Linked DNA regions of Homo sapiens. The protein of the gene in region 1 interacts with the protein of each later gene in a biochemical or structural test. Each region holds a gene or a part of one and is shown on either strand. Other genes may lie near its edges. The genes, in order: VDR, MED1, HR and POU2F1.

The links.
Region 2: the proteins of VDR (region 1) and MED1 form a complex in vitro, tested with the Homo sapiens proteins (5 studies listed by BioGRID).
Region 3: the proteins of VDR (region 1) and HR form a complex in vitro, tested with the Homo sapiens proteins (2 studies listed by BioGRID and IntAct).
Region 4: the proteins of VDR (region 1) and POU2F1 form a complex in vitro, tested with the Homo sapiens proteins (one study listed by BioGRID).

The regions. Positions count from the first base shown.
Region 1 is NC_000012.12:47,852,803-47,860,035, forward strand, and holds part of VDR (vitamin D3 receptor), read right to left. Parts: intron 4,887-7,233; coding exon 4,702-4,886; intron 4,448-4,701; coding exon 4,327-4,447; intron 3,000-4,326; coding exon 2,828-2,999; intron 1-2,827.
Region 2 is NC_000017.11:39,420,260-39,427,492, forward strand, and holds part of MED1 (mediator of RNA polymerase II transcription subunit 1), read right to left. Parts: intron 4,480-7,233; coding exon 4,368-4,479; intron 3,563-4,367; coding exon 3,438-3,562; intron 3,187-3,437; coding exon 3,068-3,186; intron 1-3,067. UniProt on the Homo sapiens protein: Component of the Mediator complex, a coactivator involved in the regulated transcription of nearly all RNA polymerase II-dependent genes.
Region 3 is NC_000008.11:22,113,778-22,121,010, reverse strand, and holds the end of HR (lysine-specific demethylase hairless), read left to right. Parts: intron 1-52; coding exon 53-295; intron 296-503; coding exon 504-669; intron 670-837; coding exon 838-907; intron 908-1,120; coding exon 1,121-1,251; intron 1,252-1,727; coding exon 1,728-1,847; intron 1,848-1,945; coding exon 1,946-2,061; intron 2,062-3,971; coding exon 3,972-4,136; intron 4,137-4,582; coding exon 4,583-4,711; intron 4,712-5,248; coding exon 5,249-5,311; 3' UTR 5,312-6,592; downstream 6,593-7,233. UniProt on the Homo sapiens protein: Histone demethylase that specifically demethylates both mono- and dimethylated 'Lys-9' of histone H3. May act as a transcription regulator controlling hair biology (via targeting of collagens), neural activity, and cell cycle.
Region 4 is NC_000001.11:167,216,607-167,224,030, reverse strand, and holds the start of POU2F1 (POU domain, class 2, transcription factor 1), read right to left. Parts: upstream 3,146-7,424; 5' UTR 3,134-3,145; coding exon 3,073-3,133; intron 1-3,072. UniProt on the Homo sapiens protein: Transcription factor that binds to the octamer motif (5'-ATTTGCAT-3') and activates the promoters of the genes for some small nuclear RNAs (snRNA) and of genes such as those for histone H2B and immunoglobulins.

The DNA.
Region 1 (7,233 bases):
CTTTTCTACACAGCTAAGAGGGCCATACACCAATATATGGCACCTCATAATCTGTTTCCATCCAGAGCCGGCAATGTTAACTCATTTTCCAGCTCCCCATATTCCAGCACTGAATCTGAGCATTAGTATCTAGGAAGCATTTTGCCCCTTCTGCCGTAAATACAGCTATTGCTGCTACTTGAAAGACAATAACATTGCTTGAGATTGATTTACTTCTCTTTCTCAACCATATTGTTTATGTATTTTATGGCAATATACCAAATGAACTTTGGGGAAGAATGAAGATACAAATATACATAAATATAGCCATTTCCCAACACATCTATTAAATGTGTCAATACTCTATTGTTTTAAGAATATTGGCCGGCAGTGGCTCATGCCTGTAATCCCAGCACTTTGGGAGGCCGAGACAGGCGGATCACGAGGTCAGGAGATCAAGACCATCCTGGCTAACACGGTGAAACCCTGTCTCTACTAAAAATACAAAAAAATTAGCCGGGCGTAGTGGCGGGCGCCTGTCATCCCAGCTACTCGGGAGACTGAGGCAGGAGAGTGGCGTGAACCCGGGAGGCGGAGCTTGCAGTGAGCCGAGATCATGCCACTGCACTCCAGCCTAGGCGACAGAGCGAGACTCTGCCTCAATTAAAAAAAAAAAAAAAAAGAATATTGGCCGGGCGTGGTGGTTCATGCCTGTAATCCCAGCACTTTGGGAAGCTGAGGCTGGCAGATCACCTGAGGTCAGTAGTTCAAGACCAGCCTGGCCAAGATGGTGAAACCCCAACTCTACTACTAAAAATACAAAACTAGCCAGGCGTGGTGGTGCGTGCCTGTAATTTCTGCTACTCAGGAGGCTGAGGCAGGAGAATTGCTTGAACCCAGGAGGCAGAGGTTGCAGTAAGTTGAGATCGCGTCATTGTACTCCGGCCTGGGCAACAAGAGGGAAACTCTGTCTCAAAAAAAATACAAAAAATTAGCCAGGCATGGTGGCACGCTCCTGTAGTTCCAGCTACTTGGGAGGCTGAAGCAGGAGAATTGCTTGAACCTGGAAGGCGGAGGTTGCAGTGAGCTGAGATCGCGCCATTGCACTCCAGCCTAGGTGAAAAGAGCGAAACCGTCTCAAAAAAGAAAAAAAAAATTAACACTGCATGAGTATTTAAATATAAGTATTATATACAGTACTAGTGTTAAAACAATGAAACATAGGAATAAATGAATGAAATTTATATGAATGAATTGATAAAGGAGGATCCCTTCTCCAGTAGAACTCCTTATACTTATATATTTTGGCAAAAATGTATCAGTATGGTTAGGAAATGGTCTTTATTTTTTTCTTTTTTGAGACAGGGTCTTGCTCTGTTGCCCAGGCTGGAGTGCAGTGGTGAAATCATGGATCACTGTAGCCTTGACCTCCTGGGCTCAAGTGATTCTCCTGCCTCAGCCTCCCTAGTAGGTGGGACTACAGGCATGTGCAACCACACCTGGCTAATTTATAATTTTTTTTTTTTGTAGAGAAGAGGTCTCACTATGTTGATCAGGCTGGTCTGGAACTCCTGGGCTGAAGCAATCCTCCTACCTCAGTCTCTCAAAGTGTTGGGATAGGCATGTGCCACTGTGCCCAGCCAGGAAATGGTCTTTAAATGTACATTTTGGTGAAGGATGCCAGGGTCATATATGCCAGTAAACCTATCTCTCTCCAGGATTCCTAGACTGTTTCACAAGTCTACATGGCCAAGCCCTTCTCTCTATCACTTCATTCTGCTCTCAGAGTTGGGGTGTGGAGGAATCATATCGTTGAATTTAAAGAGATAATATGAGGATTCCAGTCAAGCCAGCTGGAGTGAACACAGCAGTGAGCTGGGAGTTCTAGGCCTGGCTCTGACATGCTGGCTCCAACACCTGGAAGGGATCCTGGCTGGCCATTGGACCTCTCTGGGCTTCCACACCATCATCCAGAAAGTGCGGGGATGGACTAGCTCTCCAGTGCTGGCCTGCAGAGTAACGCAAGACAGGCTGCACTTTCTAAATACAGATTTCTGGGCCTACGCCAGAGATTCTGATTTCGCAGGTCTAGGGTAGGGTCTGAATCTCTATTTTAAAGAAGCAATGGAGGCTGGCTGCTGTGGCTCATGCCCGTAATCCCAGCACTTTGGGAGGCTGAGGTGGGTGGATCACTTGAGGTCAGGAGTTTGAGACAAGCCTGGCCAACATGGCGAAACTCCGTCTCTACTAAAAATAAAAAAATTAGGGCAGGGCGCGATGGCTCATGCCTGTAATCCCAGCACTTTGGGAGACCAAGGTGGTTGGATCACGAGGTCAGGTGATCGAGAGCAGCCTGGCCAACGTGGTGAAACCCCGTCTCTACTAAAATTATAAAAATTAGCCGGGCTTGGTGGCCCACACCTGTAATCCCAGCTACTTAGGAGGCTGAGGCAGGAGAATCACTTGAACCCGGGAGGCGGAGGTTATAGTGAGCCAAGATAGTGCCACTGCACTCCAGCCTGGGCATCAGAGCGAGAATCTGTCTGGAAAAAAAATAAAAATAAATAAATAAATAAATAAATAAATAAATTAGCCGGGCGTGGTGTCTGGTGCCTGTAATCCCAGCTACTTGGGAGGTTGAGGCAGGAGAATCGCTTGAACCTAGGAGGCGGAGGTTGCAGTGAGCCGAGATCGCGCCACTGCACTCCAGCCTGCGTGACAGAGCAAGATGCCGTTTAAAAAAATAAAAAATAAAAAAAAGAAGTGGTGGATGAGTGATCTCCAACCCTTCTTGTAGCTCAGTCTAGGACTCTGACTCTGTTCCCCAGAGATTGCAGAAGTTTCTTACCTGAATCCTGGTATCATCTTAGCAAAGCCAATGACCTTTTGGATGCTGTAACTGACCAGGTCAGCCAGGTGGGGCAGCATGGAGAGCTGGGACAGCTCTAGGGTCACAGAAGGGTCATCTGAATCTTCTTCACTCAGATCCAGATTGGAGAAGCTGGACGAGTCCATCATGTCTGGGAGAGATGAGGGAAGAGAAGGAGCTATTTAAGGATACTTGGACCAGGCCCCCTCCTGCCAGACCCTGCAAAAACCTGGTGTGCCCTGGCAGCAGAGCCAGCTGGGAATCCCACAGTGACTCCACAGGTCACCCTTCAGCCCCAGGCTTCCCTCTGGGACTCTCTCTGCCTCTTTCAGCAGCATAAGGCAGTAAAATCAAAGAGCCAGAGACACTCAGAGCAATGAGACTTCCTCAAGCAGACTGTGTGCTGTTCCTATGGATCTCAATCAAGAAAGAATTTGGGACCCATCAAGTCATGGAAAAAAATGTTCAACCTTGCTAATGGTCAAAGAACTGCAGTGTAGAACATCTATAATTTTCACCTACAAACCAGAAACAAAAATGTTTAAATATTGATGCCAGTATTTATAAAGATGCAGGAAATTAGGCAATGCCTATGAGGGCTGGGGTGCTAAAGGAGGTGCACATTACTGAAGGTACTCTAGAAAGCTATTTGACATTAGTCAAATAATTGTGTGTACTCTTTGACCAGTAGTCACACTTCCTGGAATTCATTGTAAGGGAAAATTTCCGATAAGTGTAAATATTTGGCTACAAGTATACTGTTTTCTTATTAAAATGCTGAGAAATAATCCAGATATCCAATGGTAGGGGATTAGGTACATTATTGTATTCCAGAATACTATGCAGCCCTTAAAAATTATATTCTGGATGCGTACTAACTGGTATGGAAAAACAATGCCATATAAAAAAAAGCAAGTCATCAGATTGTATACAGCACAATTTCTTTTCTAAATATACATATGTGTTTTTTTTAAAAAAAAAAAAAAAAAGAAAGGAAGGAAAGCATGATGCCTCCCAGACTCTCAGCTGAGCTGGAGGGGACAGGTCCTCCAGGGCCAGAGTGGTCCCCAGAGCTCAAGTGGAAGGTGGACCTCAATAGGACCAACACGTTCACCTTCCCACTCCAAATTTCACCTTCTGAAGGGCCCAGGATTAAAATATCACGTAAAGGAAGCAGGTCACCTCCACGGAGGGGGCCATGGGCTGAAGCCTGGCTTAGAGGAAACAGCATGGGCCCGGGAGGCTGATGCTACACAGCTGGAATCCCAGCTTGGCCTCTTCCCCAGTGTGGGCCCTTGGGTAAGTCACCCCTTTCTGTAACAGAGGGGCTGTTGTGAAGACGCTGCATAGCGCACAGTATTTATGTAAGTTTCCATTAGGGAGCCTTCCACCTCCTTCCATCCAGCAGCCCCAGGGCAGGTGCGGTGGACTCCTCGCCCCCGCTCCCTTACTCTATGGAGGACTGAAGTCCTGCTTACCTGAAGAGGTGATACAGTGATCTGAGCAGGAGGAGGAGGAGTCCCCAGAGAAGCTGGGAGTGTGTCTGGAGTTGGGCCTGGAAGGATGGCTCCCTCCACCATCATTCACACGAACTGGAGGCTGGAAGGGAAAGATGGGGTCTCAGACCCACATTTTGGGGTTGCCTTCCTACCTTGGCCCTGATCTCTGATAGGAATGGCTTTGAGGAAGGTCTACAGGAAGGCGAAGCCTCCCAGTGCCAGGGGCAGAGCAGCCTCCGTCCCTACCCCAGTTCTGTTCAGGATGTCCCCTGCCCTCTGTCCCTACTCCCTGGGCCCTGGCTCCACTAGTGCTTCTCCTCTGGACCGGCTCATCCTCCCAGCAGGCAGACATACCCGGAACTGGCAGAAGTCGGAGTAGGTGGGGTCGTAGGTCTTATGGTGGGCGTCCAGCAGTATGGCAATGATGCGCTGCTGCTCCTCAGACAGCTTGGGCCGCAGACTGTCCTTCAAGGCCTCCTCCTCCTTCCGCTTCAGGATCATCTCCCGCTTCCTCTGCACTTCCTCATCTGTCAGAATGACTGTGGGGTGGGAAGGGGAGTCAGGAGGGCTGGCCAGCAGCTCCTCCAGGAAACCTTCCTCCTGCGGTTGGGGGTAAAGGTCCAAGATAGGAGGGGCTTTAACACTCGGGGCTCCCTCGGGGGTCCTCCTGCCACGGAGACTCCCACTCCACTGTGTGAAGAAAAATTGGGTTTGCTATGGTGAAAAGGAAGGCACATGCAAGAAGAAGAAAAAGAGGATTTGAGAGGGGGGATGATCTGGGCTTTAGGGAGTCGGGGTTCTCAAGAACAAGTTGTGGGACCTTGGGCAAACTCTCTGGGCTTTTGTTCTTTTGTTTGTAAAATGAGAGATTTGGACCATGTAAGTTCTTCCAAGGTTCCTTTCTTGTACCTTCCTCCATAAAGTGTGTGTGTGTGTGTCTGTGTGTGTTGACATGCAGGTGGGGGAAGTAATAATACCTGCCTCAAAGGATCAACTGATTTGAGAACTGGATGCATGCCTGGCCCAGAGCAGATGCTCACTAAATGTTAGTTCTCTTCTCTTCCCTACCCTGATGTTCCATGATCCTGAAGAAGATATCAGGGTGAAGAGAGGATGCCAGAGCTCTCATAGCGCTGGAAGTGAGATGTGGAGAGGACTCCTCTATGTGGCTGTCTCCACATCCAGGTTTCCAGACATGGGACTGTGGAATATAGAAAGACTAGACCTCTTTGGTTCTCTGCAAAACCACCCCTCCTCCAGCATGTACAGCCTTGACATTTCTGTCCATGGAAGTTTTCAAGTCCTCTTGAAGGCCCCAAAGGGTGAGGCCTTGCAGCTCTAATCTTAGAAGTTCTCTCCAGCCACTAATCAGGGTGTGGGGCCATAGAGAGCCCCACCACCACCTGCAGGCTTCTGCCTGCCTCCCTGTGCTGGGGCAGCTGTGGGGGTGGAGGGGATGCTGGGAGCAAAGGTGCCTGGCACGGCGGCTGGGCAAACAGACCTCCTGGCTGTGGCTTGCTGAGTGCTGACGGCAGGAGTGGGCACCAGGGCCTTTGGCCTGTAGCTACTTGCTTGGTGCTGCTGCTGCCAGGGCATCTGCCCACAGAACTGGGGAGTTTCACAAGAGCAGAGAAAGGAACCAGAAGCCCAGGGTGGGTGAGTTCCAGGCTTTGAGAAAGGTCCATTGGCCCAGGCCCTCAGGTAGGGGGAGGACGAGAGAAGTTGCTGTGGGGTGAGGAAGAGCCTATGCTGGGAGGGAGTGGACAGCCAATGCCACAGGCATGGCAGGAAAGCGAGCGCTACTGCAAGAGATGGTGCTTCCCTCCACAGGGAGCCTGGGAGTAGACCACACCCAGGTGACTGACTCACCTGCCCAAACAGCTGCCAACTCTCCTCCCACAGTGGGTGTCTGCACAGACCCTACCAGGTCAGGCAGGGTGGGAGAGGAAGGGGCAGGGAGCATCCAGGGAAGGCAATGGGGGTAAGCCCTCGCTTGGGGAGCCCAAGATTAGGTGTCTTGTCTTTCCTGCTCACCTGGGGACCAGAGTTAGGGAGACCTGTTTCTGCCAGCCACACCATGGTGTCTACAGGCACGTAGCTCAGCCTGACTGGACTTTGCTAACTTTCCAGTGATTCTGTGATGCCATTCTCCTGCCCAGATACTTTTCTCGGCCCCTACTGATGACCACGTCCAAACTAAAGTTGGCCTCTTCCTAACTTTCAGACTTCATGTCTTAGTGCTTCTGGACACAGCCTCTGTTCTGGGCATGCTGGCATTGCTGCTGGCCTGGGAACATGACCTGCTCATGCTCGCCCCTGCATTTCCAGTTGTGCTAGGTGCCCGTCCAGCTGGGTTTTCTCTCCCCCAAACCTGTATGAGTTCTACCAGTTCTTCAGTGCCTACATCATAGCCATCTTTTTCCATGAAGCATTTCTTGATTGCCCTGATCTGCATCAAGCCTTGTTTTTTTCTGCTGAGCCTCATTTCCTATGCCTGCTACATATTTAGTCTTTCCCACACACATTGACACCCAATTATCTTCTGCTCTGTAAGACTCATGGTTAGCACAGTTTTCAATTCATTACCTATAGACGGAGCCCAAGAAGTTCAAGGTCTCTTTCTCTAGATTACAAGTTACTTAAGGGCAGGGTCCATGTCTTACAATTCTTTCTTTTCTCTCCCTTCCTTTCCCTTCCTTCCTTCCTTCCTTCCTTCTTTCCTTCCTTCCTTCCTTCCTTCCTTCCTTCCTTCCTTCCTTCCTTCCTTCTTTCTTTTTCTTTCTTTCTTTCTTTCTTTCTTTCTTTCTTTCTTTCTTTCTTTCTTTCTTTCTTTCACAGACTCTCGCTCTATTATCCAGGCTGGAGTGCAGTGGCACCACCTCGGCT
Region 2 (7,233 bases), on another chromosome or scaffold:
TGCGATCTCGGCTCACTGCAAGCTCCGCCTCCCGAGTTCATGCCATTCTCCTGCCTCAGCCTCCTGAGTAGCTGCGACTATAGGCACCCGCCACCACGCCCGGCTAATTTTTTTTGTATTTTTAGTAGAGACAGTGTTTCACTGTGTTAGCCAGGATTGTCTCCATCTCCTGACTTCGTGATCCACCCACCTGGGCCTCCCAAAGTGCTGGGATTACAGGAATAAACAACCACGCCCGGCTGCAAATTCTCTATTTTTAATAAAACACCTATATAATAATAATGCAGCCAGAATTTGGTAACCACTACTTTAGTCTATTGTAAAAGATTCAGATAAATACAAGTCCAGATGAGGTTTTGGAACGTTCCCTTATTATTATTATTATTACTTTTGAGACAGGGTTTCACTCCCATTACCCAGGATGGAGTACAATTGTGCAATCTTGGCTCATTGCAATCTCTACCTCCCAGGATGAAGCCCCTCAGCTTCCCGAGCAGCTGAGACTACAGGCATGAACAACCACATGTGCCTATTTTTTTTTTTTTTTTTTTTTGAGACAGAGTCTTGCTCTTGTAGCTCAGGCTGGAGTGCAGTGGCACGATCTCTGCTCGCTGCAAGCTCCACCTCCCGGGTTCACGCCATTCTCCTGCCTCAGCCTCCCAAGTAGCTGGGACTACAGGCGCCCGCCACCACACCCAGCTAATTTTTTGTGTTTTTTAGTAGTGACGGGGTTTCACCATGTTGGCCAGGATGGTCTCGATCTCCTGACCTCATGATCTGCCCGCCTCGGCCTCCCAAAGTGCTAGGATTACAGGCGTGAGCCACCGCTCCCGGCCACATCAGCCTAATTTTTGTATTTTTTTTTTGTAGAGACAGGATTTTGCCGGAGGATGAGGCAGAAGAATCGCTTGAACCTGGGAGGCAGAGGTTGCAGTCAGCCGAGATCGTGCCACTGCACTCCAGCCTGGGCACCAAGAGCAAAAAAAAAAAAAAGAAAAAAGAAAAGAAAAGGACAGGCAAGGTGGCTTGCGCCTGTAATCCCAGCACTTTGGGAGGCGGAGTAGGGTGGATCTCAAGGTCAAGAGATAAAGACCAATCTGGCCAACATGGTAAAACCCCGTCTCTACTAAAAATACAAAAATTATCTGGGCATGGTGGTGCACACCTACAGTCCCAGCTACTCAGGAGGCTGAGGCAGGAGAATCACTTGAACCTGGGAGGCGGAGGTTGCAGTGAGCCGAGATCGCGCCACTGCACTCCAGCCTGGCAACAGAGCTAGCTAGACTCCATCTCAAAAAATAAAAAAATAAAAAAGAGAGGATTTTGCCACGTTGCCCAGGCTGGTATTGAACTCCTGAGCTCAAGTGATCTGCCTTGCCTTGGCCTCCCAAAGTGCTGGGATTACAGGTGTGAGTCACTGTGCCCAGCCTCTTAATTACTGCTTCCAGCATTTTCCTCTCTGTAAGTACTTTCAGGATCTTTCCAGATTCTAAGCTCATGGCACTTGAAAGAATTAAACAGTAAGAATTTATAACACCTAATTATGATATTCTAAAAGTTCAAAATACCATTAAGAGTCTGTCACCCCGCCAGGCAAGGTGGCTCACGCCTGCAATCCTAGCACTTTGGGAGGCCGAGGCGGGCGGATCACGAGGTCAGGAGATCGAGACCATCCTGGCTAACATGGTGAAATCCCGTCTCTACTAAAAATACAAAAAATTAGCCAGGCATGGTGGCAGGCGCCTGTAGTCCCAGCTACTCAGGAGGCTGAGGCAGGAGAATGGCATGAACCCGGGAGGTGGAGTTTGCAGTGAGCTGAGATCTCACCACTGCACTCCAGCCTGGGCGACACAGCAAGACTCCGTCTCAAAAAAAAAAAAAAAAGTCTATCACCCAAAATTTCTTTTTCTTTTTTATTTTTTTGAGACGGAGTCTTGCTCTGTTGCCAGGCTGAAGCGCAGTGGTGCGATCTTGGCTCACTGCAACCTTCGTCTCCCGGGTTCAAGCAATTCTCCTGCCTCAGCCTCCCGAGTAGCTGGGACTACAGGTGCATGACACCACACCCAGCTAATTTTTGTATTTTTTTAGTAGAGATGGGGTTTCACCCTGTTGGCCAGGATGCTCTCGATCTCTTGACCTCGTGATCCACCTGCCTCGGCCTCCCAAAGTGCTGCTGGGATTAGACATGTGAAACACCACGCCCAGCCTCGTTTTTTTTTTTTTTTTTTTTTTTTGAGACGGAATTTCGCTCTTGTTGCCCAGGCTGGAGTGCAGTGGCGCAATCTTGGCTCACTGCAACCTCTGCCTCCCGGGTTAAGTGATTCTCCTGCCTCAGCCTCCCAAGTAGCTGGGATTACAGGCATGTTCCACCACACCCAGCTAATTTTTATATTTTTAGTAGAGACGGGGTTTCACCATGTTATCCAGGCTGGTCTCAAACTCCTGATCTCTAGTGACCACCCGCCTTGGCCTCCCAAATTCCTGGGATTACAGGTGTGAGCCACTGCACCTGGCCAATCACCCAAAATTTCAACAAAGAACTGTACATTGTTGTTTCCTAATGGAAGCTCATGCCCTTTTACTTCAATACATTTCCGAGATTTCTTTTTTTTTTTTTTTTTTTTGAGACAGAGTCTCGCTCTGTCACCCAGGCTGGAGCACAATGGCACAATCTTGTCTCACTGCAACCTCTGCCTCCCAGATTCAAGCCATTCTCCTCCCTCAGCCTCCCGAGTAGCTGGGATTACAGGCACCCGCCACCACACACGGCTAATTTTTTGTATTTTTAGTAGAGACAGGGTTTCCCTATGTTGGCCAGGCTGGTCTCGAACTCCTGACCTCACGATCCGCCTGCCTTGGCCTCCTAAAGTGCGGGGATTACAGGTGTGAGCCACCGCGCCCAGCCCATTTCTGAGATTTCTGTAATTTCCTGCCTTACTAAAGAAATAGGACATGATCCAGCAGTCTTGAAGAAACTTATCTGACCTCAATAATGCTATAAAGGAAGATTATGATCTTGGGTCCAAACATAACCTACAACATTCTAGCTCCCTAGGGCTTTACTTACAGCATAAAATCTCATGTTGTGATTCAAAGGTATGGGGTCAGGGTCCTTTGATAGCTCAAACTGAGTGATCAGTTCATACAGGGGTGCATAAGTTGGTTGAGTTTCAAACAATGGAATTCCTGGAAAAACAAGAATCAATATAATGATCATGTTAAGATGAAAACACTGACAGCTCAGTTTCCCCTTGATATCTACATTCATTCACCCAAAAGAGTACTTACTAAGCATTTACTAGTACAAAGCACTATAACATCTTTACCAGTAATACTTCAATGAGGCATGTAAGACTGAAAGACGTCATGATAACCTGACTTTGAAGTTTCTTTTTCACATTTATAACAAGTACTAGATCCTGATGCTCAAAACTCACCTGTGCAGTTCTGCAGTTTCTGAACAAATGCTCTAGATACTGGGATTGGCTGGGGAAATTTCAAGAAGAAACAGGCAGGAAGATCAACACTGTTGGCACTGGTGATTGAGGAGAAGGAAGGGGTCCTTCAAAAAAAAGAGGGTGGAAGGGTTGGATTCTGACTTGATATAAAAATGAAAAACCCAAACACCTTTTTTTTTTTTGAGACAGATTTTCCCTCTTAATGCCCAGGCTAGAGTGCAATGGCGTGATCTTGGCTCACTGCAACCTCTGCCTCCCGGGTTCAAGGGATTCTCCTATCTCAGCTTCGTGAGTAGCTGGGACTACAGGTGCCCGCCACCACGCCCGGCTAATTTTTGTATTGTTAGTAGAGATGGGGTTTCACCATGTTGGCCAGGCTGGTCTTGAACTCCTGACCTCAGGTGTTCCACTTGCCTCAGCCTCCCAAAGTGCTGGGATTACAGGCGTGAGCCACCATGCCTGGCCACAAACACCTATTCTTAAACATGTATGTATCACACAGACACATAAGTACAAACTCTCAAAAGCTCACTCTGTGAAACTTCCTACCCCCAATTCCCAGACATGCTATTGGTTAACACTGTAGAATTTAATCAAACATTTATCCTGAGGCATGTTCTCCAGTTATTACTCCAATGTAACTAATGAACGTAAGATAAAAGGGGGCACTCATTAAGCCAGAGGAATTAGCACAGTTCTCTTCTTTCCCTTTCAGTGCAGAGAATGTGTTCTACGAGCCGACTTTGGAGAGGAACACTCAGATATCAAACAAAAGAGAAACCAATGAATGGATAAAACAAAAGGCCAACCTCTAGAAATTCAAGTGGGGTAACAGCCAGGTTAAAACTTGTTACATACTGCGCTTTGAGAAAAATTGACTTTGCTACTCTAAAATTATATTTAACTTACCATTTATTGTCAACTGGATGTGACCCCATAATTAATGGTGCAATTGGGAGTTTGTACACAGCAGATGTTCCTTCAATTGTCACTGATGCATTCATGCCCAAAGATCGAGAAACTGGGGATAGGAAAGAAAAAGGGTATTCCTCAAAGTAATACAAATGATGGGAATCACAGTATGTTTTAAGAGGTTAATTTTTGCAATATTTGTCAGCTATAATTTATCAGATGCTGTTATTCCCTTATTTATTTATTTATGTATTTATTTATTTATTTTGAGACAGAGTCTTGCTCTGTCACCCAGGCTGGAGTGCAGTGGCGCAATCTCAGCTCACTGCAAGCTCCACCTCCTGGGTTCACACCATTCTCCTGCCTCAGCCACCCAAGTAGCTGGAACTACAGGCGCCCATCACCATGCCCGGCTAATTTTTTGTATTTTTAGTAGAGATGGGGTTTCACCATGTTGGTCAGGATGGTCTCGATCTCTTGACTTCATGATCCGCCCATCTTGGCCTCCCGAAGGACTAGGATTACAGGTGGGATTACAGGTGTGAATCACTGCGCCCAGCCTATTTATTTATTTTTTTATTGGAGGCAGAGTCTCACTCTGTCCAGACTGGAATGCAGTGGTGTGATCTCGACTCACTGCAATCTCCACCTCCCAGGTTCAAGAAATTTTCATGCCTCAGCCTCCCACGTACATGGCATTACAGGAATGCACCACCATGCCTGGCTAATTTTTTTGTATGTTTTGTAGAGATGGGGGTTTCATCAGGTTGGCCAGGCTGGTCTCAAACTCCTGGCCTAAAGTTGATCCACCCATCTCAGCCTCCCACAGTGCTGAAATTACAGGCATGAACCACCAGGCACGGCCTGTAGTTCCTATAAAACTTAGAAATCAGGCCAGGTGTGATGGCTCATGCCTGTAATCCCAGCACTTTGGGAGGCTGAGGCGGGTGGATCACAAGGTCAGGGGTTCAAGACCAGCCTGCAGAAGACGGTGAAACCGCATCTCTACTAAAAACACAAAAATTAGCCAGGTGTGGTGACAGGCGCCTGTAATCCCAGCTACTCAGGAGGCTGAGGCAGGAGAATCACTTGAACCTGGGGGGCGGAGGTTGCAGTGAGCCGAAATCGCACCACTGCACTCCAGCCTGGGCGACAGAGTGAGACTCTGTCTGGGGAAAAAAAAAAAAAAAATTAGAAATCCTGGAAGTTACCTTTCTAATCAACCAATAATTTTTGTCAGTAAATAAAACACAAGAAACAATGCAGTCCAAAAACATCATTTTTGAAGGGTTCAGTATCAATATTTACTTATTTTTTCTTCAGAATGCATTTAAGTAGGATCATAATAAAAGGACAGGCTGGTGCACTGGCTCACACCTGTAATCCTAGCACTTTGGGAGGCCAAGGCGGGAGGATGGCTTGAGCCCAGGACTTCGGGGGCTGTAGTGAGCTGTGATCAAATCACTGTACGCCAGCCTGGGCAACACAGTGAGACCTACCCCGTCCCCCATGCCAAATTATAATAACAATAAAGGAGCCTGACGCCAAGGCTCGCACCTGTAATCCTAGCACTTTCGGAGGCCAAGACAGGTGGATCACTTCAGGTAAGGAGTTCAAGACCAGCTTGGCCAACATAGTGAAACCCCATCTCTACTAAAAATACAAGAATTAGCCGGGTGTGGTGGTGCATGCCTGTAGTCCCAGCTACTTGGGAGGCTGAGGCAGGAGAATCACTTGAACCCAGGAGGTGTAGGTTGCAGTGAGCTGAGATCGCACTACTGCACTCCAGCCTGGGTGACAGAGTGAGACTCCATCTTAAATAAATAAATAAACAAACAAACAAACAAACAATAAAGGGATGGAGTCAATGAGTGAAGCTACAAAGGGACCTAAGGAGGTATTAGTCCATTTCACTTTTTTTTGAGACAGAGTTTTGCTCTTGTTGCCCAGGCTGGAGTGCAATGGCACAATCTCGGTTCACTGCAACCTCCGCCTCCCAGGTTCAAGCGATTCTCCTGCCTCAGCTTCCTGAGTAGCTGGGATTACAAGCATGGGCCATCACGCCTGGCTAATTTTGTATTTTTAGTAGAGACAGGGTTTCTCCATGTTGGTCAGGCTGGTCTCGAACTCCTGACCTCAGGTGATTCGCCCACCTCAGCCTCCCAAAGTGCTGGGATTACAGGCATGAGCCACCGCGCCCGGCAGTCTATCTCTCTTTATCTTTTCTTGTATCAAGGGCAAACAGAAAATAATGTCCATTACCATAGTTCTTTAATTTAGAAAACTTCACTTTTTTTTTGATCAGTAACTCACTACGTTGCCCAGGCTGGAGTACCATGACTATTTACATGCACGATCATGGTATGCTACAGTCTCAAACTCCTGGGCTCAAGCAATCCTCCCGCCCAAACCTCCCAAGTAGCTAGGACTACAGGCATAAACTACCAGGCCCATCCTTCTACACTTTTTAAACAATGAGTAAGCTGATTATCTCAGGTCAGATCGTTTATATCTCTTCTTATGAGTTGCTCATTTACTTATTTATTCAAAAGTACTTTTTTTCTTTTTTTGAGATGGAGTCTCGCTCTGTCACCCAGACTGGAGTGCAGTGACGCAATCTTGACTCACTGCAACCTCCTCCTCCCGGGTTCAAGCAATTCTCTTGCCTTAGCCTCCTGAGTAGCTGGGATTACAGGCGCGTACCACCATGCTTGGGTAATTTTTGTATTTTTAGTAGAGACAGGGTTTCACCATGTTGGTCAGGCTGGTCTCCAAGTCCTGACCTCGTGATCTGCCCACCTCAGCCTCCCAAAGTGCTGGGATTACAGGCGTGAGCCACCGTGCCCAGCCCAAAAGTACTTAT
Region 3 (7,233 bases), on another chromosome or scaffold:
GCCCTCCCTGTGGGGCCCAGTGGGTCCTAAGCCCCTGTGCCCCTCTCTGCAGGATGACCGCATCACCAACATCCTGGACAGCATTATCGCACAGGTGGTGGAACGGAAGATCCAGGAGAAAGCCCTGGGGCCGGGGCTTCGAGCTGGCCCGGGTCTGCGCAAGGGCCTGGGCCTGCCCCTCTCTCCAGTGCGGCCCCGGCTGCCTCCCCCAGGGGCTTTGCTGTGGCTGCAGGAGCCCCAGCCTTGCCCTCGGCGTGGCTTCCACCTCTTCCAGGAGCACTGGAGGCAGGGCCAGGTGAGGCACCCCTCCCCTCCCCTCCCGGCCCTGGCCACCCCACCTGCCCCTCGGGGCCTTGGTCCCTAGGCCCAGACAGACCCAGTGGCTCAGGGGGAGCAGGAGGGCTGTCCCCGAGCTGTTCTACTGCCCTTACAACACGCCCTTGCCTGGCCATGGCGGGCACCCTGGCCATTCTCCTCATGGCCTCCTTCCTTTCCCACCACAGCCTGTGTTGGTGTCAGGGATCCAAAGGACATTGCAGGGCAACCTGTGGGGGACAGAAGCTCTTGGGGCACTTGGAGGCCAGGTGCAGGCGCTGAGCCCCCTCGGACCTCCCCAGCCCAGCAGCCTGGGCAGCACAACATTCTGGGAGGGCTTCTCCTGGCCTGAGCGTAAGTGTCCCCAACACAGGGGAGAGGGAGCTGGGAGCCCAAGCCCTAGGGATCGGGTGGCAGAGGAGTCCCAGGGTGACCCCGAGGGGCTGGAAGCAGGTGTTGCTGCCGCCGGGGCAGGGGCTTCAGGGCTGAGGAGGCCAATGGCCGTTCTGTCTCCTCCTGTAGTTCGCCCAAAGTCAGACGAGGGCTCTGTCCTCCTGCTGCACCGAGCTTTGGGGGATGAGGACACCAGCAGGTGTGTATGTCACCAAGGGCCAGCCCTACCTCCCCGCCACCGCAGGCCCCGCCTGGTTCAGCCCTCCCCTCCTCCTCTGCCCCCAACCCCCACCCCGTGGTCCCTGGTACTCTCATGTTTGCCCTCTGGGAGTTACCCCGGTGGTGGTGGGGCTTTGATGGGGTCTCTGGTGCCCAGGTTGGGCCTGCTGGGCATGACCCCCTACCCTGACAGGGTGGAGAACCTAGCTGCCAGTCTGCCACTTCCGGAGTACTGCGCCCTCCATGGAAAACTCAACCTGGCTTCCTACCTCCCACCGGGCCTTGCCCTGCGTCCACTGGAGCCCCAGCTCTGGGCAGCCTATGGTGAGTGTCCCTCCACTCCTGCCCAGTCTCTACTCCCATGCCTGTCTGCCTGTCATCTCGGGGCACACGAGCGTCTGTGCCAAGGCCCTGGGGCCTGAAGCGCTTCTCTGATTCCATTTCTTTCTTTCTTTTTTTTTTTTTTTGTTGTTGTTGAGACGGAGTTTTGCTCTTGTTGCCCAGGCTGGAGTGCAATGGCACTATCTCGGCTCACCGCAACCTCCGCCTCCCAGGTTCAAGCAATTCTCCTGCCTCAGCCTCCCGAGTAGCTGGGATTACAGGCATGCACCACCACGCCCGGCTAATTTTTTCTATTTTTAGTAGAGAGGGGGTTTCTCCATGTTGAGGCTGGTCTCAAACTCCTGACCTCAGGTGATCTGCCCGCCTGGGCCTCCCAAAGTGCCAGGATTACAGGCGTGAGCAACCGCGCCTGGCTCTCTGATTCCATTTCTAACTGTTCTTTCTCTATTGCCATGCAGGTGTGAGCCCGCACCGGGGACACCTGGGGACCAAGAACCTCTGTGTGGAGGTGGCCGACCTGGTCAGCATCCTGGTGCATGCCGACACACCACTGCCTGCCTGGCACCGGGCACAGAAAGGTAGGTCCTCGGCCAGAGGCAGGAGCGGGGACAAGCTACAGAGGTGAGTGTTTGTCGCCACCAGCCCTGGGCCTGCCTGAGCGCTCTTTCCTCCTCAGACTTCCTTTCAGGCCTGGACGGGGAGGGGCTCTGGTCTCCGGGCAGCCAGGTCAGCACTGTGTGGCACGTGTTCCGGGCACAGGACGCCCAGCGCATCCGCCGCTTTCTCCAGATGGTGAGGAGGCAGCCGGGAGCCCTCCCCTTCCCCCCGCCCAGCCCTAGAAGCTCGTCCAGTCCCACCCCAGTGTGCGGTCCCATGTGCTCGCTCCCTGCCCCACGCCCTCAGGTGAGCTGCACAGACCCAACTCGCACAGACAGGTGCAGAGAAGGCAGAGGGGACCCGGAGTTCTGCCGTGGGGCTCAGAGAAGGGGCAGGGGCTGCGGCAGGAGAGCCTGGACCCGATGATGAAATGAGAGCACCAGCTGCCCGAGGCTGGACGTGGTGCTAGGGCCTTAGGCACAATTATCTGTTACCCGTCTCAGCCCCCCGCCCCATGAGGCAGGCACTGCTCCTTTCCCATTGGCAGATGAGAACACCGAAGCTCAGTGGCAGGGCTGGGATCTGAGCTTCTGTCTGTCATGGCCCCAGGTCACTACTCTATGCTCTTCCTGGAGGCAGGCAGCCTCCTCTGCCTTCTGAGACTCCGTCCGGCTGCCCACCTTTTGGTATTTGCATCTTGTTAGGGGAGACTGCCTGGAGGAGATGCTCCCGGAGGGGCTAGCAAGGAAGGGGGCTGAGGGAAGTGGAGGGAGAGATGGGTCAGGTGAGGAGCCAGGGAAGGGGAAGGTGATGGGGTGGGCTGGAGGCAAGAAGCTTGAGGCGCAGGGGAGGAGAGAGTCCAGGGGTAAGGCGAGGGCAGCCCCGTGGTTCCCAAGTCCAGCTGAGCCCTCATTATCCTGGGGAAAAGACTTCCACCTAGTGTCACCCCTCGCCAAGGCACACACACACACGGAGACGTGCAGAGGCCAGCATGGTGTGCACCCCTCCTGCCCACAGGTACACACATGTGTAGATACACACACAGATGCTGGGACACGCAGAGGGGAGCAGACAAGCACACCTCCACACACAGATGGCCTCTTCTGGGCTGGGTGTGGCTGGCCGTGGGCAGTCACTACGGCCCAACCCAGTGACTCACGGGGCAGGGCTGAGGGGCACAGTCTCCCTGGGTGGCCTGGGAAACACTGCTCAGCTCCAGGATGGAGCTGAATCTCCAAGGGCAAAGGAATCTTGGCACCCAGCTGGGACTCCCCTAGGGTCCAATTTGCTTCACCAGCCTTCCCTTCCCCCACGCCCCATCTTGCAGCCCTAAGCCCAGGGGCAATGGCTGAGGTCCTTGCCAAAGGGGGTGGATTGGGCTGGTGGTGGGTTGGAGCACGATGCTGGCGTCCCCTTTGCACATGTTCCCTGGGCACCTCTGTCCTCTGCGAGTCCCTGCCTGCCCAGAGAGCTCCCTGCTCTGGTTAGGCTTGTGAGGTCCCCGTAGCTGTGGCTGCTGCAGAGGCCTCAGCCTGGCCGGAAAGCCTGTTCACCTGCTGGCACTCAGAGCCTCGCAGTGGTCCTTCCCTTTTCTGCATCCGGAATCTTAGGGAGACCCTGATGAACACTTTGAGTTGTCTCCCCAGGGACACACAGCTCTCTCCTCATCCACCACTTAGCACACAATTCTGGCCATTCCAAAGACTTCAGATGAAGAAGTCCTGGTAGACAGTTTATGAACTGGGATTATGCAGGACGTCTCCCTCGGATTTGCAGAAAGGGGTACCATTGAGAGAGGGAGGAGAGGGGCCGAGGTCACAGAGGCTGTTAAAGGCCTCCAGCCCCAGAAAAGCAGGGATTCAGTCTGCCCAACTGTAGGGCCTTGAATCCCTTCCTTCTAAGCTCCTTCCAGCCAAATGTGTGTTCTGCCAACCTGAGCTGCCCCAGCCCCAAACAAACTCAGCCATGCCCTCCCTGCCTGCCCTTCAAGACTTGACCCTTCGGCTCTTTTCTCCACCCCTGGCCTCTGGAAAGTCCATGCCCCATCCTCCTGCAGCCCTGCCCTTCCCTCCCCATCTCGCTCATTCCCCCTTCTCTTCTTTGAGGTGTGCCCGGCCGGGGCAGGCGCCCTGGAGCCTGGCGCCCCAGGCAGCTGCTACCTGGATGCAGGGCTGCGGCGGCGCCTGCGGGAGGAGTGGGGCGTGAGCTGCTGGACCCTGCTCCAGGCCCCCGGAGAGGCCGTGCTGGTGCCTGCAGGGGCTCCCCACCAGGTGCTTCCCAGCGGGCAGGGGCTCTGCGGGGAGATCAGGATGGCAGAAGCGACCCAATCAAGGCCGCAGGCATCCAACATCCCCTCAATACCCAAGAGCCGGGCAGGGCAGGGAGCCGCACGCTGCTGTGGGGAAGAGATAACGGGGGAGCCAAGAGGCCTTGAAGTCACTGAGCCCAACTGGGACTGGCGCCAGAGTCCACTCCTGGTCTCCTGGGCATGCTGATGTCAGGGGGCTCGCAGGGAGACTTTAGGGTCTCTCCAGCAGTTCTGAGTCCCGGTTTTGGCCACAGGCTTTGAGGTGTCCAGTGGTGCATCCAGGAATCTGCTCTCTGAGAGCCAGGGGTCGGGGGTGGTTGTCATTAGAGGAAGCGAACCTCAGGGACCAGGGGGACAGGGAGAGGATGTGTGATCTTGAGCCTCACTGTCCATGTCCCCCCGACACAGGTGCAGGGCCTGGTGAGCACAGTCAGCGTCACTCAGCACTTCCTCTCCCCTGAGACCTCTGCCCTCTCTGCTCAGCTCTGCCACCAGGGACCCAGCCTTCCCCCTGACTGCCACCTGCTTTATGCCCAGGTGAGTGGGATGTGGGCCAGCAGGCTGGGTGTGCTACCCAAGCCTCCCACCTCCCTGTGCCACAGCTGCAGTGGACATAGCAGATCCCACCCTGTGCCAAGCAGGCAGCCACCCTGTGCAGGGGCAGAGTATTCCTTTTGTTTAGTTTGTTTCATTTTGTTTTTTGAGATGGAGTCTTGTTCTGTCACCTAGGCTGGAGTGCAGTGGCACTATCTCAGCTCCCTGCAACCTCCGCCTCCTGGGTTCAAGTGATTCTCCTGCCTCAGCCTCCCAAGTAGCTGGGACTACAGGCGCCCACCACCATGCCTGGTTAAATTTTTTTGGGATTTTTAGTAGACGTGGGGTTTCACCATGTTGGCCAGACCGGTCTTGAACTCCTGACCTCAAATGATCCACCTACCTTGGCCTCCCAAAGTGCTGGGATTACAGGTGTGAGCCACCGCATCTGGCCAGAGTATTCCTTTTAAGTAGGGTGGGGGACAGCGGGTGGGCCCAGGAATGTAGTTGAAAATGCTTTGTCCTCTCTCTTTTTCCTAGATGGACTGGGCTGTGTTCCAAGCAGTGAAGGTGGCCGTGGGGACATTACAGGAGGCCAAATAGAGGGATGCTAGGTGTCTGGGATCGGGGTGGGGACAGGTAGACCAGGTGCTCAGCCCAGGCACAACTTCAGCAGGGGATGGCGCTAGGGGACTTGGGGATTTCTGGTCAACCCCACAAGCACCACTCTGGGCACAAGCAGGGCACTCTGTTCCCCTCCCCCTTAAGCCAACAACCACAGTGCCACCAAGCTCACACCTGTCCTTCTCAGGCTGGCATCTCCCCCACCCTGTGCCCCTTTTCATGGTACCAGGCCCGCACTGGGGGCAATTGACTTCCTCCAATCCCCACTCCTCCGAGACCCAGGAGACAAACAGCCCTTCCTTGGGGAAACTTGGGAATCATTCTGGCTTAAACAACACCTCCTCCTGCTGCTCACTCCCGCTGAGCCCACTCTACTGCCCCAGCTCCGTTTCTACCACCGCATCCTCACTGGGCTCACTGCAGGCATGCTGAACAAGGGGCCTCCAACCTTCTGCCCTCCTGCCAAAAGATCTGGGGAGTGTGAGGAGAGGGTGGCATCAGGAGCTGCTCAGGCTTGGCGGAGGGAGCGGCATGGGCGATGTCACTCAGCCCCTTCCCGGTCCGCCCGCTTCCCTCCTTCATGATTTCCATTAAAGTCTGTTGTTTTGTGACTGCTGCCAGTGTGGTTGGCCCTGCCCCTGCAGGCCACATGGTCCAGGGAGGGAGGGGGACATGGAAATCTGCCTTAGAGACAAATGGAGTAGGGCAGCCCGGAGCTGGGGCCCAAGGGACAGGACACCACTGCCTGCTCTTCGTCTGGGGCCTGGGGCCTTGCCTCCCACTGAGGAGACTTTGGGTGGGGTGGGGGGCTGTCCCCCAAAGATGCTCCTGAGTGCAAGAGCAGGCAAGGCAGAGTCCTGGGGCACAGCCACGAGGTGACCTCCCTGTGCAGAGACTCCCGAGCCCTACTCCACCCAGCAAGCTCCAGTCCGCCCCATCTCTCCCGTCTACCCTGACCTGGAGATCCAGAAGTATGGCCCAGAAGAGCCCTTGCCCCGCCTGTCTGCCCTTGGTGGCAGTGGCCATGGCCGACGCCAGGCCCAGCCACCCTGGGACTGAGCCTGACTGCTTCAGACAGCCGACCCCTCCTTGTCCCCGCTCCACGCCCGCAGCCTCCTGGTGGCGCTCCGCCCTCTCCCGCTTCCTTTGTGTATCTCAGCCCTACAAAGAAAAACACTCCCACTCTTGTCATACCTAATTGTTCCTGCTGTGGTTTGGGGAATTTTTTTTATTAAATAAAGTTTTTTATTATAAGGGTAATATACTTTCAGAACATTCAGAAAATAAGAAAGTCACCTTCTAGCCCATCATTACACACCTCCAACTACTATGAGTATTTTGGCATATTCCCTCCCAGTGCTTTCCCCAAGGATTTGCTGTGCACATAGCTGGATTGCTGTGTTTTGTCCTTGGTTTCTTTCTTTCGACACCATATCATAATCATTTTCTGTGTTGCTACCTAATCTTCATTTTAAATGACTGCTTATATTCCATTAAGTGGCTTTGCCATGATTTACAAAACTATGCTTTATTTAAAAAAAAAAATGTAGGGCTTCTTTCATTGTTTGGAGAACTCAGTTATTTTCATTTTTTTATGGGATAAAGAGGAGAAAAGAAAAGAAAAAACTGAGAACTCTACAGTTTACTTTGCTTTTGTTTTCATTTAATTTATCTCATCTGGCCAGGCGACGTGGTTCACGCCTGTAATCCTAGCACTTGGGGAGGCAGAGGCGGGTGGATCACTTGAGGTCAGGAGTTCAAGACCAGCCTGGCCAATATGGTGAAACCCTGTCTCTACTAAAATACCAAAAAAAAAAAAAAAAAAAAAAAAAAAAATTAGCTGGGCATGGTGGCAGGCGCCTGTAATCCCAGCTACACGGGAGGCTGAGGCAGAAGAATCG
Region 4 (7,424 bases), on another chromosome or scaffold:
CGGCCTCAGTAGTGATTAAATTGCAGCTATAAAGGAAATTGACCCGAAATAAATGGTTTCCCTATGAGAAGGCTTCACTGCTACACTTCACCTCAGGACAATAAATCAAATTAACTGCACCTTGTCCTCTGTCCAATGACATCATCAGTTTGACCACATCTTGGGAATCGGGTGCAAAAACATATGCTATTTAAGGCATGAAATTATATTGCTGCTTTTTGTCCATCTGACCTCATACTTCAGGTCTCTGAAGCAGTCATTCACCTGAAGGTTCTCTTAAAAGCTACAGATTTTTTTTTTTCCTGCTGCATTCAGGGCCTGCCTACTGTGAGTGAAAGAAGAAAAATGGTGAGAACTGGTTATCTGAAATTAGCTTGCGTTTAATCCATCAAACCTAGAATTTTGTTACAAATTAAACTGAAGACCAAAGTCCCACAAAATACATAGCTAGCCACTCACCAAAATGTCTTAACATAATTTCAAAGGTTTAACACATTAGTGTTAAACCCCACTCCTCTAATACTTCCCTCGACTACGCAGCGGTAAACATCCACCAGTGACAGGCAACACTAGTCACACTCACACTCACACACACCCCTACACAAAATAAAAATGTTAAAAGAAAATTTTACCACAGGAAAGACCAAAAATCAAAATTACTGTTTCCTCTAAACAGTAAAAGTTAATCTGCCTCTCACAAGCCAACTGTCCTAAGTCTAGATAAAACATAACATCAATTCTGACAACTTAAAGAGGAGGGGCGGGTGTGCTGGGAGGAGAATAAGTTCCAAGATCAGGGTAAACGCAATGCCTATGTTTATTCTTCTCTTTTCACTCATTTAATCATGACACAAATACTCAAAGAAAACATAACCCCATTTTTTTGTTTTCAGTAGTGCTACAATTAAAATAAGCAAGTCTATGACAATGATAGCACAAAATTAACGTCAGCTCCATTTTAAATTAGAATGAAGATGTCAGAAAGGTAGCACCACACCAAGAAATTATGAAACTGTTGTTAATTGGAATTTCTAATATTTAGCTACTCCACAACTCCTAGAGGAAAAAAAAAGTGTCAGTTTTACAAATACTACAGACCTTTACAAAGCCTTAAAGTATTTAACATGGGGGTGGGGAGCAACCGGGGTACCCATCCCCAAAACAAAGTGATTTGGATTAAACCAAAATAGATTTCATAGGCTCTGAAAATAAAATACAGGACAGATTTTTCCCCCTAGGCCCAATACTACTGCAAAGTATAAGAAAGTCTTTTTAAGAGAAAACAAACCATCACAGAGTTGATACTTAGCTAGGACCTGTTTTAATGCTAGTAAAGCCCCAAGAGAGTTTGTTTTGCCCGCAGAGGAGGGGAAAGTGTGTGGAAGTTGGTGGAGGTAGTCATTTTGGTTATTAGTAAATAAATCAAGCAGCAGAGAACATGAGGCCTAGGCAACTGCTAGAGAAGCCAAGGCCCAGCTTCCCCCCTCTCTTCCCAGCACGGCCTGGGTTTGATCTCAGAGCCCTGCGGATTGCCAAGGAAAAAAAAAATCATATCGAACCACAAAAGCACATGGGGCGAATGTAAAATATAAACACGGCGTTGGGCTGTGAGTGGCTGTTATTAAAGGTCTGAATTACTAAACATGAGAGGCGGGGAAAGCCAGGCGGCCATTTCAATAATATAAACCTCCCCGAATTAGACATTATTCAAATGAGAAGAGGTTCAGCTAAGCAGAGAGTAAAGACGACCCAGCACACAGCGAGAAAACACCGCCACAGAAGAAGGGAGGGGGATCCCCGTCCCTCCCCACCGACTCCCAACAGGAGAGAGGAAATCGAGAATACGATCAACTTGTCAGGCCAGCCCATTCTGGGGCAGGAGGGCAGCCCTTTACATCCAAGTTCTCGGGAGGCCTCTGGGCGCTTCTGGGGCCTCGGAGCGAGAGGCCCCGGAGGGCCACCCGCCCCGTGCGTCCCGGTCAGGCGCAGGGGGTGGGGGGAACGGAGGGGGGGCAGCGGGGAGGGGCAAAGGGAGACGGAGGTCAGACCACGCCAGGCACCTCCAGCCCAACTCGCCCGCGAAGCCCCGGCCGACAACGCAAAGGGGCTGCCGACCGCCGGCCGGGGGCGCGCGGGCCGCCCCAGAGGACATCCCCTCGGAAGGAACTTGCCCCAAGGACTCCTTCCAATCCAGTCCACCCCCCAGGGGGGGCACGCAGACCCCTGCGCGGGTTCCCCACCCCCGCCGCCCCAGGCCACCTCGCAGCGCCCACGACCGCTCACCCCTACCCACCTAGAGAGCAGGCCTGGCTTGGGTCAGGCCACCACATTGGGGACCAGTGGGGCGAGGCCGAAGTGCCTGGGGCCGTGACCCCCGGGCTCAGCCCCGCGCGGGGCGCGGGCAGGGAGCTCTCCCCGCGCGCACCCCCGGTTGCCCTGAGGGCCGCCCCCCAAGGCGGGCAGCGCCCCCCCGCCCGGGCCCGCTCCCGGGGGAAGACGCGTGCGGGTGTCCGGCCGCCGGGGTCCGCTCCGGCCCCGCCGCCTCCCCGGCATTGTGCTCGCCGCCGCCTCCATCCCCCTTCACGCCCCCCACCCCGCGCCCGCCCGGCCCCGGCCGCCCGCCCGCGCCCTACTGCGCCCCGCCGGCCCAGCAGCTATGAATATGTAAAATGTCTTTATTGTCCTCTCCCTCTGCCCCGGCCCCGCCGCCCCGCCGCGGACCCGCTCGGGTTCGGGCACGGCGGCGAGGAGGCGGCAGCGGCGGCCGGCAGAGGAGGAGGGCCGGTGCCGACGGGCAGACGGCGAGCGGCGGCGGGGTGGGCCGGGTGCAGGAGGAGGGCAGTGGATCGCAGCCCCCTTTGCCCCTTGTCTTCCCCCTCCGCCTGGCCGCTCCGAGCCTCTTTCCCCCTCCGCTCAGCGCCCGGCGGGGGCTCAATGCTCCCCGGCCCCCCATCTCCCCGCCGTTAATTATAATAATCCTGAGTACTAATAAATTATGCTAAGTCGCGGGGGGGGGCAGCGGGAGCCGGGGTTGAGTATGAATATGAATATGTAAAATGCTGTAATGATTACCTGCTGCTGCTGCCGCCGCGGCTGAACTCTCATCTTGACTCGCTGCTCCTCCGTCCGCCATTTTGAATATTTTAACCAAAATCGCCCGGTCGATAAACCCTCCCTCGCTCTGGCTCCCCTCCCCCCTCCCGCCCTGCTTGCCTCCTCCCTCCTCTCCGCCCCCTCCCGCTCCTTCCTCTCCCCGGGCGCGCGCCAGGGGGCGCGCGAGGCCGGCTCTGTTCGCCCCGGCCCCCTCAGAAGAGCTCCACCCCCTTCCCGCGCTCTGCGCACGCGCCTTCGGGGCGCTGTGGCCCTTCGGTAGCTAAAGCAGCGCCCTCAATCAGCCAGGCACCCTGTGGCTTCATTTTTCGTCTCGGCTCTGCGCATGCGCGCCTTTCTCCTGCCGCCAGAAGTGTCGCCGGCGCATGCGCTCCCTCTAGCTCAGAACCAGATTATATAGTATCCCGGGCGCCTGTGTCTTCTTACACTTCTCCCTTTTCCTCCCGCCTTGCTTCCCTCCTGGCTTCGCTCCGGTCTCCCCCAGTGGCCTGTGGCATTGTAAAAGCACGGCAAGGAGCGCAGCGGCCAGAAACGTGGGGGCGCGTGGAAGGGCAGTGAGCGGCCCGCGTGCCCTGTGCTCCGCACTTTCTTCAGGGTTTCCGCGCAGTTGAAACATTGGCAACAATGGATAAGCCGCTCCTCGCTAGGTAATTTCCGGCCCTCTGGGCAGGTAGGGGCGGAAACGACCGCCACGGGAGCCGGGCATGAGGCACCTGCTGAGCCACACGCGGGCCTCCCGCTTTAAATTTGAATCCGAGCTAATCCCCGCCCCCGGCTCTGCTAGTGCAGGAGACCCGGCCCCGGCAAACGCGAGGGGGAGTGTCGTGTGATTGTTTTAATTAGCCCTAAATCTCTTCTGCTCTACTTGCTTCTAACGCCAGGCTGGCTTCCTCGGGAGCTAGGCGTCTTATTAAGTCGCTAATTTCCGCCCTACCCTTCCTTTCTGCCTTCACGCCCCTCTAACGCCGCTCCCCCCAATCGAAACAGACCCCATATTCTGAGGCTTCCCCCCGCGCCTTCTTCCCGCCTTGGAACACCTTTTAAAACCTAGCAGTAAGCTGATGACTAATAAAAATGTCGAAATCGTAACTTCATCGTGAATTTTATTTTGCTGTGTTTCTCAGAGTAAATATGGTATTGGGGAAAGGTTTCGCGTTGCACATATCTTTCTTGGTAACTAGACATAATGTTGCTGAGTTTTCTTTATCTTAAATGGCGAAATTCCCTGGACAAAGTCCCAGGTCTAATTATTTTACGAATTTTTAAAGCCCTATTTTTGTTTGTTTGTTTGTTTTTTAAGAATAGAAAGGTGTATTTCATGGTAAGCAAAGTTTAAAAAAAATCAGCTCTAGTTAATCTGTCTTGAGAGATATGACTGAAGTTTAAATTGGGTAGAACTGCTGGTTCTACAATTAAAAACAAAACTGATTTCCAAGTGAGTGCAATTATTTTAATGGGTAAAGTTTTAATCATCAGTCCTAGAATGCTCGTTGGACTCCTTTAACTGTGCAAGTACAGTTAAAGCTATTGTCAGTGACAGGCAACGATTTGGGGGTGGGATTGATTTGTTCGTGGTAATTAAGCCTTAGGGTGTGTGCATGACTGTTTGAACCAAATAATTAGACCGCCCTGTAATCTAATTATTTAGAGCCACGCCAACCAGCACACTTAAGGAAATGAAATATTTAACTAGTTAATCTGGAAATATGGCCTAAGTTATTTTCACCAGCATTACTGTAAGGGAAGTCTCAGAATTGACAACCTTATTGGAAATAGTTAAGTACATGCCCCTGCTCTGGGGACCACAAATTTGAAATCATCTCCATTAAGAAAAAGAGCTCAAATACCCTCATTTAATTTCCTGTCTTCTATTTAATCCTAGTTTTGCTCTTTGGTTCAAAAAGTATATTAATATGACCTTCGGAAAGTCATTGAAGCTAGTGTATGTGTTATGCATTCTTTACTGTTTCACTTCTATAAAAGGAAATTTTCATGGAAAGGATTTTTATTTAAGGAAGGATAGTTCTGTGAGAACAAAAATAGCTTAAAATAGACTGTATCAAAGTTTCATTTTCCTCCTAATGAGTTATTTATGTTTCCAGCTGTCCCCAGTGCCTAGCACAATGCCTGGGCATAGTAGGTGTTCATATTTGTTGAAGAAAAATAGTGAATATACAGTTATGTATGTTAGGATTATTTGTAAAATTAATGTCATTTATTCAATAAAAAATTGTAAACATCTGCATTCTCATGAACTTACTAGGTGCTAAAGATAGGAAAATGTGTAAGACACTACTTTAACCTCAGCAAACTCACATATATCACTTTAAAAAAGAAAAAAAAAAACCCTTACAATACCCTGGGAGGTAGAAACTCTTTATCCCAGTTATCTAGGATGGGAAGATTGAGGCATAGAGATGTCAAGTAACTTGCCCAGTGTCACACCACTATTAAGTGTTAGAGCTAAAATTCAAACACAGGCAAGGGACCGTACTCTTAACCACTACACTAAGTTATTTGCTTTGGGTCAGGCAAAATCTTGGAGGTACATGTATTAGACTGTTCGTGCATTGCTATAAAGAAATACCTGACACTTGGTAACTTACAAGAAAAGAGGTTTAATTGACTCATGGGTCTGTAGGCTATACAGGAAGCATAGCACTGGGAAGGACTATGTTTCTGGGGAAGACTCTGGAAGCTTACAGTCGTGGTGAAGGCCAAGCAGGAGCTTGTACATCACACAGGAGAACAGGAGCAAGAGAAAGGGTAGGGGGGCAGGTGCCACACACTTTTACAAGAACTCACTGTCATGAGGACAGCACCAAGGCGATGGTGCTAAACCATTCATGAGAAATCTACCCCAATGATCCAGACACCTCTGTATTAGTCTGTTCTTCCACTGCTATAAAGAAATACCTGAGATGGGGTAATTTACAAAGAGGTGTAATTAGCTCACAGTTCCACAAGCTGTGAGATACACACTTAACCAGATCTCATGAGAACTCACTGTCACCAGAACAGCAAGGGGGAAATCCACCCCCATGATCCAATCACCTCCCTCCAGGCCCCACAACCAAAATTGGGGATTATAATTTGACATGAGATTTGGTGGGGTCACAGATTAAACCATATGGGTACATATAGTTCAGTATAGGAAGGGAACAACACATTAACAAACAATGTCCTTGTATATAATGTCATAATAAAAATGTAGGCCAGGTGCAGTAGTTGCACCTAAAATCCTACCACTTTGGAAGACTGAGGCAGGAGGATTGCTTGACACCAGGAGTTCAAGACCAACCTGGGCAACACAGTCCCTGTCTCTACAAAAAGCCAAAAGTTAAGGTGGGTGTGGTGGCACACACCTATGGTCCCAGCTCCTTAGCTCCTTGGGAGGCTGAGGTGAGGGATGAGGACTGCTTGAGGGCAGGAGTTCGAGGCTGCAGTGAGCTATGATGGTGCCACTGCACTCCTACCTGGGTGACAGAGTGAGACTCTGTCTCAAAAAAATGATTTTAATAAATAAATACAAATAAAAAGGTATATGTGGATGAGAACTTAACTTCACTTAGAAACAAATAGCAACTATTATAATTGCCAAAAAGTAGAAACAATTCAAATGTTTTTCATATGAATGAATAAAACATTCATACCATGGAATACTACTCAGCAATTGAAAAGAATGAACTACTATCATATACAACAACTTCAATGAATCTCAAAGGCATTATGCTGACTGAAAGAGGCCAGTCTCAAAAGGTTATATACCATGTACTATATGGTTCCATCTGTATGACATTAATGAGATAACAAAACTATAGTGATGGAAAACAGATCAGTGTTTGCCAGGAGATAGTTACAGGGGAAGATGTGATTATAAGGGATAGGCACAAGGGAAGTTTGGAGGAGGGGGGTGGTTAATGGAGTTGTTCTGTATCCTGAGTATGGTAGTGGTAACACAAATCTGTACATATAGTAAAATACACACATGGCACAGTAGTGCAGGGGAGTGGTGGTTACTTCTGCCTAGCTGTTACCATTACTGGATGAATGTTCCTTAGTAACAGCCCTAAAGTGTCAACAGGAATGTGTTCCATCTGTCTTGCTAAAGTGCAACACACAGGCTCCCTTGCAGCTAGGTGTGGCCATGTGTGACAAAATTTTGACTATTGAATTATAAAGAGTTAATTTGGTGGGATTTCTGGGAATGCTTTTTCAAGAAGCAAGTTTTGGGAGGCCGAGGCGGGAGGATTGCTTGAGGCCAGGAGTTCAGGGCCAGCCCTGACAACATATGAGACTGTGACTCTACAGAA